Linked DNA regions of Homo sapiens: region 1 is linked to region 2. The links come from fine-mapping of genetic effects on gene expression. Tissue or cell type: whole blood. Region 2 holds a variant in brackets; the other region holds the start of a gene. All regions are shown on one strand. Distances are from middle to middle.

Region 1 (8,000 bases), 70 kb after region 2:
ATCAATGTGAATTGTAGTGAAGGAAATTTTATGAAGTTGGCACTTAAGTGGGGCCCTGAAGGATGAGTAGGATTTGGACAGGTGAGAAAGCATTCCAGTTTAACAGGAAAAACATGCACCAAAGCCCAGAGGCCAAGAGAATAGTTTCCATGAGGAAGATGGAAGAAAGCACTCTGACTGGAGCAAAGAATGTTTCCTGGGTACCAGGTTGGCTGAGTAGAGTAGAGCCAGATTAATAGTGGGTATAAAGGTGGGAACTGCTAAGGCCAAGATGAAGATAAAAGAGAAGCTGCAACCTAGTTATGATGATAGTACAACTCTTTCTTTGTTAGAGCATGGAGGGAACATGGTCTGGCTCTGTCATCAAGGCTGAAGTGCAGTGGCACAATAACAGTTCACTGCAGCCTCGACCTCAAGTGATCCTCCCAATTCAGCCTCCTGAGTAGCTAGGACTACAGGTGTGTGCCACCACACTTAGCTAACTTTTCTATTTTTTGTAGAGATGGGATTTCGCCATGTTGCTCAGGCTTGTCTCGAACACCTAGGCTCAAGCAATCCACCCACCTTGGCCTCCCGAAGTGCTGGGATTACAGGTGTGAACAACAGCGCCCAGCAGATAGTACAACTCTTAAACAAAGAAAACTATTGAAGATATACAAAGGAGTAAGAATGAAAGAGAACAGCCTGGGTGCAGTGGCTCATGCCTGCAATCCCAGCACTTTGGCAGGCCGAGGCGGGCGGATCACCTGAGGTCAGGAGTTCAAGACCAGCCTGGCCAACATGGCGAAACTCTGTCTCTACTAAAAATACAAAAATTAGCCAGGCGTGCTGGCAGACGCCTGAAATCCCAGCTACTCAGGAGGCTGAGGCAGGGAGAATCGCTTGACCCCATGAGGTGGAGGTTGCAGTGAGCCAAGATCGCACCATTGCACTCCAGCCTGGGCGACAGAGCAAGACTCCGTCTCCAAAAAAAAAAAAAAAAAAAGAATTGAAGAGAACAATAACAACAAAATGAATAAATAAAATGACCCAGAAGATGGAGAAATAACCTGTGGTACCAATCAACAGGGTTGTTGCTAGGACAGGTACTCAACTTGAAAAGGAGGAAAAGACAAAGTTAAGATGAGAAAGAATAATTTAAGATAAACACATATATTTCCAGATGAAAATTACAGTAACCAAATTCTCCACTGTTGGAGAGGTTATTCTATAAAATTAATTTAATTCCTAGGATGATCATGAGGATGCTTTATCACATGGATATACTGGCTTGAGAGCTGCATACGAAAAATTTGCATTATCCCTTAGGTTAAAGCAAAATTCATCATCATCTCCCTCCTGAAAACTTATTGCACTTGAAGTTCAGAAGATCTGTAACGTCTTCTTAAAAACACTTAGCTGTCTTTGGCCTGATGGTTATAGCATTTTCATACACCACCTTCTCCACCCCAGCTCAATCAGATTAATTGTGCTGACAGAATTATGGAAGTGTTGGATCATGGTTGCAGTGCAATGATTCAATCTGTAGTCCCTGGTGCATATTTTTCAGTTGAACATGTGAAGTAGAAAGTTCAAGGTGGTTGGACAAGTGCCGAGGTATTGCATGACTGACAGTGAACCTGGATTTCAGTACAGTACTTTTTAAAATTTAAATTGCTTTGATAATGGCAAATGCCAACTGAGCAAGGTGGCTCATGCCTGTAATCCCAGTACTTTGGGAAGTCGAGGCAGAAGGATCACTTGAGGCCAGTAGTTCAAAATCAGCCATAACACACTCTAAACTCATTTCTGTAATGTGGAATAATCAACAATCAGTGGGACTTTTACAAGGGTAAAGTCGGAAATAGAATCTTTCAACTGAATTTAGTTTAAATAACCCCTCCTTATTTGCACTAGTTGCTCTTCCAAGTCTGGCAGACGTTCCTGACTCTAGAACAGATCATACTGTCAACATCCCCTCATGATGAGCATGTGACTCTGGGCCAAAGACAAGTTTAAAACCATTTCAAGACCTGTTCAGTTTATGTCATGCTTCTTCAACACTAATAATCTCAATAATTTTTTATCAATCCTACTTCAATAACTAGGAGTAATTGATCCTACCTTGTCAGCGAGAAGAATGCTTCCATCTCTGGTAGAGGCAATTGTTTATTTGCCTTTCCTAATTTTTGTAAAGATTCAATGCCACTTAAGCCCAGGGTCTTTTTGTCTACTACCATCAGACAATCTGTATTACAGCACACAATCTAATTAATTCTCAGGTAATGGCCCTCTCATCCCAGAATCTACAAAGCATTTTTCTTGAAAGGTCGTATACTATCTTTGTCTCTAAAACCTGGCAATTGATTTGGAGGCAAATTGGAGCAAGGTTAGGAAGCTATGGAACAGCTTTAAGAGTGCTGGATTTGGAGTTAATTTTAGGCTTTATAATTTTTTTAGTAACCTTAGACAATTCACTCCTTTTGTGTCTCATTTCCTAATTCTATAAGATGGAGTACTGCCCCTTCAAAGAGGTTTTACGACGATTTAATGACTTTGTAAAAACACAACTACAGTCTTATCTCCATTTACTATGCACCAAGAGAACCACTTATATGTCTGGGTGCCCGTTATTTTCTGAACAATTCAGGAATCATAATGTGACAAGAAAGAGAATATTTGAAATTGGACCCACGAGGTAAAATCCAGGCAGTATAGGTCATTTTCTTCCTGCTAGCATTCTGTTCTTGCTGAGGCTCACACTCAAAGTCAAATAACCTTTGGGTTATTCTTCCCACCCCCATTTCCCCCCAGATGGAGTCTCGCTCTGTTGCCCAGGCTGGAGTGCAATAGTGGCACGATCTCAGCTCACTGCAACCTCCGCCTCCCGGGTTCAAGCGATTCTCCTGCCTCAGCCTCCCGAGTAACTGGGATTACAGGCGCCTGCCACCACGCCCGGCTAATTTTTGGATTTTTTTTTTTTTTTTTTTTTTTTTAGTAGAGACGGGATTTCAGCATGTTGGCCAGGCTGGTCTCGAACTCCTTACCTCAGGTGATCCGCCCGCCTCGGCCTCTCAAAGTGCTGGGATTACAGGGGGGCGCGGCCAGGTTATTCTTAAACCCACTCCCTTGAAGTACCTGCAAAATGCTCACGTGCTGCTCTCTGGCCCGTTTGGAAACTCAGTCCCGTGAGTAGGACGTCCACCTCATTGGTGGTGTTTAAATATTAAGTGTCAAATGCTAGAGACAGTACAAAACCCACCAGAGGGGGCCTTCCTAACACGTTGGCATAAGGATCCAAACGGAATACGGGGATAGGAGAGGTGACCTCGTGCAGTTTCAGGGAGGAGTCCATCACCTGACTGGACTGGGCCTTTCAGGGGGACGAGAACGTATTTCTTCCAACGAAACCTGAATAACCAGCTATCTGCCTGGGACGCCGCGAGGCAGAAGTAGGCGGGCCCATTGACTTAGTGTCAAGGCGGAGGCCGCGCTTCATGCCAGCGGTCACGGAGGCAGCGGAAAGCCGAGCCAGGCGCCTGCGCGCTGGGAAGAGTAGGTTCAGAGTGCATTCCGGAACCCGGGGCGCGGCGCACTGCGCAGGCGGCCGGACTCCGCTCAGTTTCCGGTGCGGCGAACACCAAAGTCCGGGAACTTAAGCATTTTCGGTTTCTAGGGTTGTTACGAAGCTGCAGGAGCGAGATGGAGGTGGACGCACCGGGTGTTGATGGTCGAGATGGTCTCCGGGAGCGGCGAGGCTTTAGCGAGGGAGGGAGGCAGAACTTCGATGTGAGGCCTCAGTCTGGGGCAAATGGGCTTCCCAAACACTCCTACTGGTTGGACCTCTGGCTTTTCATCCTTTTCGATGTGGTGGTGTTTCTCTTTGTGTATTTTTTGCCATGGTGAGTATCTCGAATGCAAAATTGGGGTGGTAAGGAGCTTAGAGATCATTTGCTCGCTTTTGGGCGGGGAGGGGACTGAATTCCAGAGAGTTTATATATGTCCAAGATCACACAGCTGGTGAGTGGCGCAGTCGGGTGGGTGGGGGAGAAGGACTAGGAGTAAAATGTCCTTCTTTAGCACGTCCGTGGGAGTCTCCAAAGAAGTGTGGAGAAAACTTGGCGTCATATTTTCTCATGATTTGGAATGAAACCAGCTAGGCTTGAGTTCCTGCAGCACCATGAAGCGACCGGAGAAGTTATTTCGCCTTTTGGAGCTTTATTTTTTCATCTGCCATTTGGGACCATTAGTAACCCAGGTCATAGGGGTGTAGTGAAGATTGAGATCGTAGTGATTTGCATGTTGCCTGGCAGTAGTAAGTGCTCAACGAAAGCTATTTTTACTATACAGCTGTTTAACCATGAGCAGACCACGCAGCTGTCTCAAACTAAACATGTCCAAAACTGAACTCTTAACAGCTTCTTACCCAAATTTACTTGCCTTGCAGCGTTACCATTTCAGTAAACGCCAACTTTATCCACCGTTACCTCCCAGAAACCTGAGACACTTTGCCCTTTTCTTACACACATCCACATATCCTAAAACACCAAGTTACAAAATTCTGTAGAGTTTACTTGTAAAACCCATGCTCTCCATTTTCATCGCCACTCGCTCTGAAAAGACAATTCTGGCAGAGGGTAAAGGAAGGGAACTTAAGAGAATAGGGCAGGAGGAAGCAGACACCAAATGGAGATGGTGTTAAGAGACAAGCTAAGGAGAAGCAGTGAGATGAAACAGGGCTCCTATGGGAGAAGAGCAGTGTAGCCCATCTAGACAGCTCTCCTGGACTTTGGAGTTGATTGTTCACTCACTGTTAACTCCTTAGTCACCATGCCTATGAGTTACTTCTGAAATTCTCACTTCTTGATAGGCAGTCACTTCTTCTACACCCCCAACCCCCATCCTATATTTTCACCAAGATTTGGGTGTCTTAAGCCTCACTGTCTCATTTCTTGGATGGTGTAGTAAGTTAGAGAAGACAGAGAGGGCCAGGCACAGTGGCTCACGCCTGTAGTCCCAGCTACTTGGGAAGCTGAAATAGGAGGATTGCTTGAGCTGGGGAGGTCGAGGCTTCAGTGAGCTGTGAACGTGCCACTATACTCCAGTCTGGGAGACAAAGCAAACCCTGTCTCAAAAAAAGGGGTGGCAGGGGAGCGAGAGGGATTAATGGGAGGATGGCAAAAGGGATAGGGATTTCTATAAAATTCTCTGTCAAGCCATTTGTAAAGGGAGAGTTTTACTCTCCCTCCCTGTTTTGGTAGAGACTGATAATCTCAAATACAGTGGGTTTTGTGTGTGTGTGTGTTTTTATGACCTGAACTTTCAGCTCTGGATAGAAAATAGAGGCCTTACAAGAAATGTTCTAGGCTTTTCTTTTTATCAATATGTAAATAGGCATAAAGTGTTAAAAACTGGGAAGATAAAGCACATATTGCTGACAAATACTTGCTTTTTACAGACTTGTTCGCTGATATCTAAATTAAGAAGTTGGTTCTTGAGTGAATTCTGAAAATGGCTACAAACTTCTTGAATAAAGAAGACAGGACTCTCAATAGAAGAATTTCACATCTCCAAGGGACCCTTCCTTTCATTTTACACTTTGTTACTAATTTGCAGAACTCTATTAATTGGGTAGGATTTCACCCATTCCTAGCTAAGTTCTTAAAATTAAACCCTTTGGTTCGTGTTTAAAAACTTTCAAACATCTGATGGCTTTACAGGGGCTGAATATAAAAGCATTTGTACTTAAAGGTCTTGTGTATTCATTAAGAAATATAGTAATGTCTTTTAATGTTTTAAGAGTTGATCAGGGTTTACTATGATGCAAGTAATAGGATGATTAATAAGGGAAGGTTTTTATGAATTCAAAAGTCAATTATTCAAAAGCAGGGAAAGATTTTGAGAGAGGGAACAAAGTATTCTTAGATTGCGTAGAAGCTGCTAGGTTCCAGTTTTAATTTTTAGGTTTAGTTGGACTCTGTTATGAAAAGATAGGTTATGGGTGGGCGACAGGTTGATACAGTCTTAGAAAAAGCAGGTAATATCAAAGTATTGGAAAGCTAGCATGCATGCCCTCTTACCTGGGTATCTTCCCCCTTTTTTCCTTTTAAACTCTTGAGCCTCCTATAACGAAGGATTATGTGTTTCAAACCTATTTTTTTTTTACTGTTTCATTAAGTGTGCTTGTGCCCAAAATATTTACTTGTATAATATCTGTAACTTGCTTAAATACTTCAGCAAAGTCAGCATATTTACTCATTCAACAAATATTTGAGCCAGGCATTATTTTAGACACAGCAGTGAACAAAACAAAAAGGCATTCTTGCCTTCATGGAGCTTACATTCTTATTGTTATTTAAATCTAAATGTTATAAAACAAGAATTTATATTCTAGGGTTGATCAGCTAGTATTTAATCAAAAAGGCCACACTCCCATAGCAGCTACTCTAAGCTGTAGTAGCTAATAAAAAATATTAATGTTGGCCGGGCACAGTGGCTCACGCCTATAATCCCAGCACTTTGGGAGGCCAAGGGTGGTAGATCACTTGAGGTCAAGAGTTGTGACACCAGCCTGGCCAACCTGGTGAAACCCTATCTCTATTAAAAAATACAAAAAAATACAAAAAAATTAGCTGGGCATGTTGGCATGCACCTGTAGTCCCAGCTATTTGGGAGGCTGAGGCACGAGAATTGCTTGAATCCGGGAGGTGGAGGTTGCAGTGAGCCAAGATGGGGCCACTGCACTCTAACGTGGGCAACAGAGACCCTGTCTCAAAAAGAAAATATTCCTGTTAGCCCTAAAGGCTTTACATGAGGAATGGTAGAAGTGGTCTTTTGTTTAAATTAGTTGCATTCAGCATATATGAATTGTCTTAAATATTTTGGGGATACTCCCCCGCCTTTTAAACAGGGCATAAGATCTGGTAAACTCTCTGTATATCTTCCTACCTTTCAAAATCGTTCTTAGGGTTAGTCAAGTCTGGAATATAATTGCTGACTATAAAGTTAGCAATTATGCTTTTAAGGTGTTGTCACATCAACCTAAAGAGAACCATCTATGGAAGGTATGGTTGAAACATCTGTAGGAACACAGAACTGGGATTTCACTGAGTTTACCAAATCAACTGTGTGAACTGTTTCTGCACTGCTTGCTAATGGTTTCATCTAATAAATGTTTACTTATATAGCTGAGTTTGGTTTTATTCTAACAAATTACCTGGTGGTGTGATTGTGAGGTGATTAACAGTTCTCACATAGTTTACTGTTAGGTCACACACAGACTTCCGATCATAATCCATACTGCCTTTTTGAGCCTAAAATCAGCCTACTACCACAATTACCAAATATTCTGAAAATTTCTAGTATGGTGAAGATGGAGAGATCTTGGTGTGAAGGTTAATTTTATATGTCATCTTGATTATGCTAGGAGATGCCCAGATTTCTGGGTTTGTCCATGAGGGTGTTTCCAGAAGAGATTAGCATTTGAATCAGTAGACTGAATAAAAAAGAGCCACCCACTCCACTGCGGGTGGGCCAACCCCTTGAGGGCCTAGCTGGAATAAAAAGGCAGAGGAAGGGCAAATTCTGTCTTCTCTCTGCTTGAACAGGGACATCCATGTTCTATCCTTGGACATTGGTTCTCCTGATTCTCTGGCTTTCAGACATGGACCAGGGCCCCTGGTTCTCAGACCTTTGGGTTTGGACTGGAACTACACCATTGGCTTTCCTGGGCTTACTGTCTGCGGAAAGCAGATTGTGGGACTTCTCAGCCTCCATAATCACAAGAGCCAATCCCTCATAATAAATTTATTTCTATATATATCCTGTTGATTCTCTTTCTATGGCAAACCCTGACTTAGTAATATGACATGACTGTAATTGGCATTTTCAAAATGGTGGCAGTATGAAGGCTGAATCTTTCCTATAGGTAAGAAATTGTACCTACCATTAAACTGTGCCATAGCAAGTATAGTGACTGCTTACATTGCCCTCAGTTTGAAGGCTTTTAAGAAGTGGATAAA
Region 2 (8,267 bases):
TCACACACCTGGTATGGGACAGGCCAAGCCTGCTATGAGAGCGGTACTAACCAAAATGTGCATAATGATTTTAGATGACATACAGATAAACTTCTTGCATTAATAGTTAAGAATATAGGTTCAGGGCAGGCTTGGTGGCTCACACCTGTAATCCCAGCACTTTGGGAGGCTAAGGTGGGCAGATCATTTGAGGTCAGGAGTAGGAGTTCAAGACCAGCCTGGCCAACATAGCAAAACCTCGTTTCTACTAAAAATACAAAAATTAGCTGGGCATGGTGGTGCGCACCTGTAATCCCAGCTACTTGAGAGGCTGAGGAAGGAGAATCGCTTGAACCCAGGAGGCGGAGGCTGCAGTGAGCCGAGATCGGACCACTGTACTCCAGCCTGGGTGACACAGTGAGACTCCATCTCAAAGAAAAAAAAAAGAGAATATAGGTTCATAGTTAGAAATACATTTTTTAAAGTTATTTTCCATTTATTTCAATAATACAATAATATAAACATTCCTTCCCAAGTAAACTTATTTAAGCAAAAATTGACTCACTGTAGAGAAAAACATTAAAAATTTAATAGCATCAGCACTTGTAGAATATAGCAAAATCCTGAAGCTGGCCCACAAATGATTACAAGTGATCAGAATGTGGAAAACCCTGATTTAGGAGATCAGATTTAATATTCTAATATTTCAATATCTAATATAATTCTGATCCTGTGGTTTTACATATCACTGAAAAAGAAGAATGTGCTTTAATCTGGAGCTATCATAATCCCATGGCTTACTTTCTACTGAAGTGGATAAATTGTACTATCGGTAACAAATGTGAGAAACACCTAGCAATGTAAAGAGGTGATTTCTTAATTTGCTATTTAGGTCACAAAAATATCTTGGGCATTGTAACTAAAAGGTCCAATGAATAAATTTATGTCTTTGAAACTTATTTTCTGAGCTCTCTAAAGCAAAGGAGCAGTTGAACAGTGCTGCTTCTCATATGAAGTAGAATTACATTGATAAAATAAACCCCCAGCCACCATCTAATGGAAATTTCCATCTAGTGCAGAGTTGCACTAGTGTTAACACTGAGATTGATTAAAAATAACCCCAAGGCACTCTATGATCCTGAAGTATATTCCAAAACATCAAAGATGGAGCAATTATAATTTGATATATATTTTGAATGTTAATAATATTTTCTAAGAATCTAAGAGTGATTAAATTCCATATAGTATATACACTGAGGGAAGGCCACACTCCAAAAGCCAAAATATCTCTCTTGGGTACATCTGCCTCTAGGAAAAATGCAAAGCGGACAGTGAATGTAAAGAGGCCCTCGCCCCTCCTTCCTACATCCTTCTCCTTTAGTTCTATTCCATCAACCCAACCCTGAGTCTCTTCACTCTCAGTTTATCTGTGTGCCATCTAAAATCATGAGAACCCTGGTGTTCTCACCATGGGCTCAGTCCCTTTCAAGTCACTACTAACAGCACTGCTTCATTTCATTTGCTTCACAGCACCTACTGCTGTCAGCACTGATGTTATGTATTTGTTCCCATGTTTACTGTCTTCCTGCAAAGGAATGTAAGCTCTGTGGCAGTAGGATCACGTCTGTTACCCCCTGCCACATCCTCAGGTCTCAGAATGTGTACCTCATAAATGAATCAACCTGAACATAATTTTATGACTCCCATGTGTATTTCTATTTTGAGATACAATTGTGCATGTCCTTTGAGACAAAATTACAAACTCTGTTTCTAGGAATGTATATGTACCAGACACTTCTTGTATCCTACTACAAATCCTCTCAGCCTTACTTCTTGCCCAACCCACCACTGCGGCAACCAGGCCCAAGCAGGCTTTGACCACCTTTCTGAAGATGTATCGTAACAGGGCCTCACCCCAGCCCCCGGCCATACCTCTCTCTGGCTTCCTATCCTAGGCCTTCAGTGATGCACTGGGCTCATACCCACATAGTCTGGAAGCATGTGGGAAATAATGCTGTGGGACCACCCTTGACTAGTGGAGAACGGATCAAAGGAAGAGAAATACTTCCCCCTGGTATTCTCCTAGAAGACAGTTCTGAGACATATGTTATAAGGCTTTCAAAGGTCCTGTCACATGTAGCTATGGCCAGATCTGTACTGCACCTATGAACCGGTTTTCCCTCCTTTCCAGCTCAAGTCCTCCATTCACTCACTGTGGCTCCTTGGGATCACTTCCCAAATAAATGAACTGCATGTAAGCCTTGCTTGCAGAAGGACCCCAAGCTGTTATATTACACAATGGAACAAACTGTGAATGTGAATATACTTAGCTATAGAACTATTAATTATAGTGTTGTTTAAATTATAAAAAATTGAGAAGAACTTAAATGTCCAATAACAAGAGAAAAATGAAGTCAATTCTATAATATCAATGAAATTGAATATTTTGCAGCTCTTAAAAGAGATCTAGTAGACAAATATTTAATGACTTGGAAAAATGTTTCTAATACATTTAGTATAAAAAGCTAGTTTCTAAAAGAATCTACAGTATGACCCCTTTTTTGGGTAAACACATGTGTGCATAACAACAGACAGTATTAGAGGGCTATACCACAATTGTTAATACGTTTTATCTCTGGTTAGGTGTGATATGAACATTTCCTATTTATTTTTACATATTTGTTAAATTTTATGTATTTGTTAAGTGGTGCATTTTCTATGTACCATTTAAATGGTCAAATATTATTTAAAAGAAAGTCAGGGAGCAAGTAAAGGAATGTCTTTCTGGATCTCTACAATGCTAACAAATATAACAAGGGTTAAGGGGAGCTATATATGGACTGTGGCTTCTCTGGGAAATATTACCCACCACTCACTAGAGATTGCCTCACTTTGGCGTGTTGAAAGGCCTTTGGAGTCTGAAAGGCCTTTGATCATCAAGCCAGTGTTTTGTAGAACAGTAACCAGGCTCTACACGTTACTCTTCCTGTTCGGTGAACAGCAACAGTTTTAAGTGTTTGGAGAAACATGAAGTAGAAGGACATAGCCCCTGATTAAATAAATCTAACTTAAAATGTTGTCATTTTGAAAAACAGGGAAAAAAAAAAGCTTTTTTATTTGTATATGTTGATTTCCAACCAATGGAGACAAATAAAAGGCTGCACATTTTTTACTTTGGAGATGCTTTCTGCAATGAACAAAGAAATGGAGGGGAGAAGCCACCACTGATCAGTGAAGACACTGTAGAGCATGAGAAATGGAAGACACCCAAGCCAAACAATTAACATCTGTGTGACACTCTCACATCAGCTGCATATTTTAAAGTAAGTTGCTTTCATCCTACTTCACATTGTTTGACAAGCCAAATTACATAGAAGATGTTTTGCTTAGACAAGTATACTCCTTCTGCTTGGCTATTAGGATCTATAGTTTATTTTCAGCTTGGGCATTTATTCCATAGGGGGAAATAATTTATGTAGTATGTCTTTTAAATCCTGAGCCATTAGCAGTTTGTTTATTAGGAAGAGACTACCAAAGGGTCCGATTGCTCCATATATATATAACTTCTAAATATCTAAGAAAACATGCAAGCATGAAAAGACAGCTTTTGTTGTTGCTGTTGTTTTTGACTCGGCTAGCCATAGCTATCCTGCAAGGTGGAGCTTGGGGAGGAGTGTGGGGAGAAGGCAGGCAAGGGTGATGTGTTTAGAAGATGAAACGCTTAGTGACAAGAAAGGCAGATCTGGGTGGAGAGTCATGGTTGGATGCACATAGCAGAGGGCTGGGTTTTGC[G/A]GTCAAGGAGTAGGGTTTTGAGATGTAGAAGTATGAATAAGGAGATGGCAGGATGCCAAGGACAAGCATTTCCTATGTCAAAACTCTGCACCGGGCCAGCCCCCTACATCCCAGAAAGAGGAAGGAAACTTTCTTCCACCTTCTTTCCTGTAACCCACATGCAACCTCGCCTGCCTCCTCCCAACACTCCACCCCTAGGAATAGGTATGTCCCACAGAGTTTAAAAAAACAAAAACAACAACCTCCCCCCACCACAAAAAAAAAACTGTCTGATTAGGTCATATTAATAGCTAATAACACAAGATCTTCCAGAATAAATCCCCTTCTAGGGGTTTTTAACATTTTAAGAGAGGTTGACTCTTAAGCAGAATACAACTGCAATTGGTGGCATTTCCAATGTTATAATTAATGAAGTAGAAAAGCAAAGGTAGTATGGAGAGAAGAAATTTGGGGGCAAAGCAGCCTCAGGCAGACTGAAAGCCATCTCTCCTACACTATCCTTTTTCCAGTTGCTACTTCTACTACTTTTAACCCAAGGTTTCTCTTAAAAGTCCGACTTATTTGAGAGTGGGTCAAATGGATAATGAAGACACCACCTACCTTTCAGGTTATTGAAAAATTAAATGTCAGTCAACGATTTAACACAATGCATGGCAATGACCATGTAGCACATCAGCTCTGACTCAGGGCTTTTTTTCTTGGATTGAACATTCTACCTCATGAGAATTGAACACCAAGATTTAGTCTCTCCCGCATAAGATGATGTTTTATCCCAGATCATTCACAATATAGGTAGCTTCCTTTTTTGATCAAATATTCTCAACATAAAAGATGTAATCAGGGAAAATTTGCAAAAAAAGAAACATAGCATACAAAAATGAGAAATGTATTTGATGCTTCATTAGTTATCAAATATAGAACCATGAGAGTGCATTTTATAAGTATAATACAAAATGTTTTTACTTTTCTTTCTAGCACCTCCCAATTCAAACAACAAAATGTTTCCAGACAATATATATTCAAACTAAAGTACAGTAAGCCTTGGCCCTTAGCATATTTTTGCTGTCACTGTAAACTAATCAACTCCCTTAGAAAACAAATAAGGAACATTGATCAATAGATACCAAAAAATATAAACGTTTAAAACATTTGACCCTAAAATTATGTTTCTGAAAATCTACCTTGAGAAAAAAGTCCAAAAAATGGAATAAGATACATAAATGACTTTTACTTTAGCATTACTTAGTAGAAAAAAAACCAGAACCAACTAAAGATCTAACAATATGGCAACAATTAAGTAAAATATGATAAATCCACATGATGAAATGTTATAATCAGTAATAATAAAGACTAATAATGGCTTTAAAAATAACTAACATTTCTAAAGTATTTGCTATAACAAACAATCCTATTATAAAATTAAATGGACTTGGCACACAGCTTTAACCTATCATCATATTAGAACAACTTAATGGACAACAAGCTCCTCTGATCTCAGGAAACTTAAAAAATAAAACAATGTTGACACAAACAGAACGAACTACTGAACACTTCCACACCAAGTATTTTTAACACGTAGTGGACAGAGTAAACAAAGTGTTCTACTGGTTTTTTTAATGACAGCTTGGCTCCTGCCCTTGCATCCTTCACTCCTACAGCTGGCAGCACTGGATGTGGATCCCATCCCATCTCTAGTCAGAGGAGACACATATCCATTAACATGCTAAACTGTAATAAACCCTTACAATGCAATACTCATCAATAAACAGGGACGACTACTGAAATACACAACAGCATAGATGACTCTCACAAATATGTTATGAGGAGGAAGTCAGCCTTAAAAAAAATACATTCTGTATGATTCTATTTATATGAAGTTCAAGAACAGGGAAAACTAACCTATTATAATAGAAATCACATCAATGGTTGCCTGGAAAGGGAGTGGGAGATTTATTGGGAAGAGACCTGAGGTTATAAATGCTCAATACCTTGATTTGGGTGTGGATTAATAGATGTGTACATTTGTTATAACTTAGCAAACTGTACAGTTAAGATCTATGGTATGTAAATTATATCCCACTAGGGGAAAAACAATCAAGTACAGTCAACCCTCCATGGGATTCAACCAACCTCAGATCAAAAATATTCAGGAAAAATAGTGCATCTGTACTGATTATGTACAAACTTTTTTTCCTGTCATTATGCCCTAAACCATACCATATTAATGATTATTTACACAGCATTTACATTGTATTAGGTATTGTACACAAACTAGAGATGATTTAAAGTATACAGGAGGGGCGAAGCATAGTGTCTCACATCTGTAATCCCAGCACTTTGGGAGGCCGAGGCGGGTGGATCACCTGAGGTCAGAAGTTTGAGACCAGCCTGGCCAACATGGTGAAACCTGTCTCTACTAAAAATACAAAAAGTAGTCAGGCATGGTGGTGGGTGCCTGTAATCCCAACTACTCAGGAGGCTGGGGCAAGAGAATCGCCTGAACCCAGGAGGAGGCAGAGGTTGCAGTGAGCCGAGATCGCACCACTGCATTCCAGCCTGGGCAACAGAGTGAGACTCCGTCTCAAAAAAATAAAAAATAAAAAAGTATACAGTAGGATGTGCATGCGTTATATGCAAATATTAATACTATGCCACTTTAAGTCAGGGACTAGAGCATGCTTAGATTTTGGTACCCAAGGGAAGTCATGGAACCAAACTCCCACGGATACTGAGGGACAGCTGTACTTTAAATCCATACTAATAGATTAACCAGAGGTCAACGGACAGCCTTTATAAGCCATGAAATAAATTTTCAAATAGAAAATAATAATCCTACCTGATAGAATCCAAAATAAGAGGCAACCCCGCAAAAATGCATTTACGTGACCAAATTGCTACACTAGCATTGATAAACTTATTTTAAAACAGTAGCTTGTGCATCCATGTCAGTGATATAGCTATATTCTATTTTCGCAAGAAATAAAGTTTTCAATTAGCAATAATCATGCCTCAGATAAACCTCATTGGCTATGATACTGCCACTGTACAAAGCTAGAAATAAAGTTTTCATAAATTATATAGCCCAAGAAAAGGCATAATACACTTAAACCAGATTATCAGAAGCACATTAATTTTACTAACCTAACAATGAGATTAAGACATTAAGGTCCAAGAGGTAATAATATTTTTAAGACTATATGTCAATAATGCTAGGGTTTATAAAACCTTTGGCTGGTGTCAAACCAAACATGCCAGAACCACATATAATTTAACAACTCTAGACTGTGACCACCTGGACTGGATTGGAGAGGCGTACCCTGAACACTGGCAACTAGCCTGATACAAATGTGCTATCCCACACACAGGCTCCATACCTAAACAACATCACAAACAAGAAAAAAAAATCCACTTTGAACTGGATATATTTCTAATAAGGACTTTGATTTGTTTTTATTTGTCTTGTTCGAGTTCAAATTACAAAGACGCTGTTATAAGATGCTAAATCATAAACAGGATGGAGTCATTTTTTTGTTCATCAAGATAAATGCCTTTTATGTACCACATGAAACTACTTAAAACGTGAATCTCAAAATGATTCAGCCGTGGAGACATCTTCAAGGACCATATATTTTAATAATACAAAGCCACAAGTAACTCAATTACTAATGCTTCTAGAGTACCTAGCCTTGCTCCGAACAATAAATTTTTTAAAAACCACTTTGGGTGTCGTATCCACCTAGTTTTATAAGACGCTCTTATACTAAGGTTTCTAGGTTTTCTCAAACTAGCTGACCTCAATGGCCATTCCATATTAAATTTTAAATAAGACTTTTTTAATTCTATATTCTTATATTGAATAAAAATAATTTAACTAGAATGGAGACTGGATGTTCTAGTTGGTCTAATATTTTGATTAAAACTATGAGGATTACCAAATTCAGACTTAAAATATAATAAAATACAATTAACATCAAAACTCAAATGGTAAATAATTTAAATTTTTATGCCTCTGGATAATAATAAATTAGTACTAACCAGGTAAAGTGATAAAATATCAAGGTAACTGATTTCTGGGTGCTAGAATGTCAGATAAATTCATTACAATGATATAAGTACCCATGGTTATATCATAAACAACCACTAATCCTGAAGGTTTGATTCAGGAATTTATGTAATTTTTTTTTTAAGTTTTAACCTGTGTTTTCCAAGCACATCATCTGCCAAACCCTTTTACTCACAAAGGACTTCTATCCCATGAGAGAAAGAAAACAGAAATGGAAAAGCAATAAGCCTTCCATAGACACTGCTGGGAGATACATAACTTTTGCTCTAATCACTGCATGTCAAACCAATGGAACAGGTGATTCTAAATCAAAGATTTAGCATGGTACTACAATCACCCAAGTGTGGTCTCCATGCCAACTCAAATGCACAAGAGGGAGAGAACTCTATAGCAAATTAGGGACATTTTTTATATGACCTGATTCAGAATATAA

What was found. PIP is the estimated chance that this variant, and not a neighbour inherited with it, causes the effect.
Region 1: it holds the start of ARLN, and the variant in region 2 is fine-mapped to the expression of ARLN in whole blood (INTERVAL, PIP above 0.99). The same link has a PIP of 0.9 or more in neutrophils.

Annotation. Positions count from the first base shown.
Region 1 is chr4:119,296,217-119,304,216 of GRCh38, reverse strand. It overlaps ARLN (allregulin), which reads left to right and starts at 3,572. Exons shown (of 2, transcript NM_001001701.4): 1 at 3,572-3,881; 2 at 5,438-7,798. The coding sequence starts at 3,682. The coding sequence ends at 5,438. RefSeq lists enhancers at 3,599-3,828, 3,929-3,978.
Region 2 is chr4:119,366,119-119,374,385 of GRCh38, reverse strand. It overlaps the pseudogene KLHL2P1 and the pseudogene RNU4-33P. Among named protein-coding and RNA genes, the nearest start is that of LINC01061, 40 kb to the left of the region's middle. The variant G/A (reference allele first, on the strand shown) is at 3,772.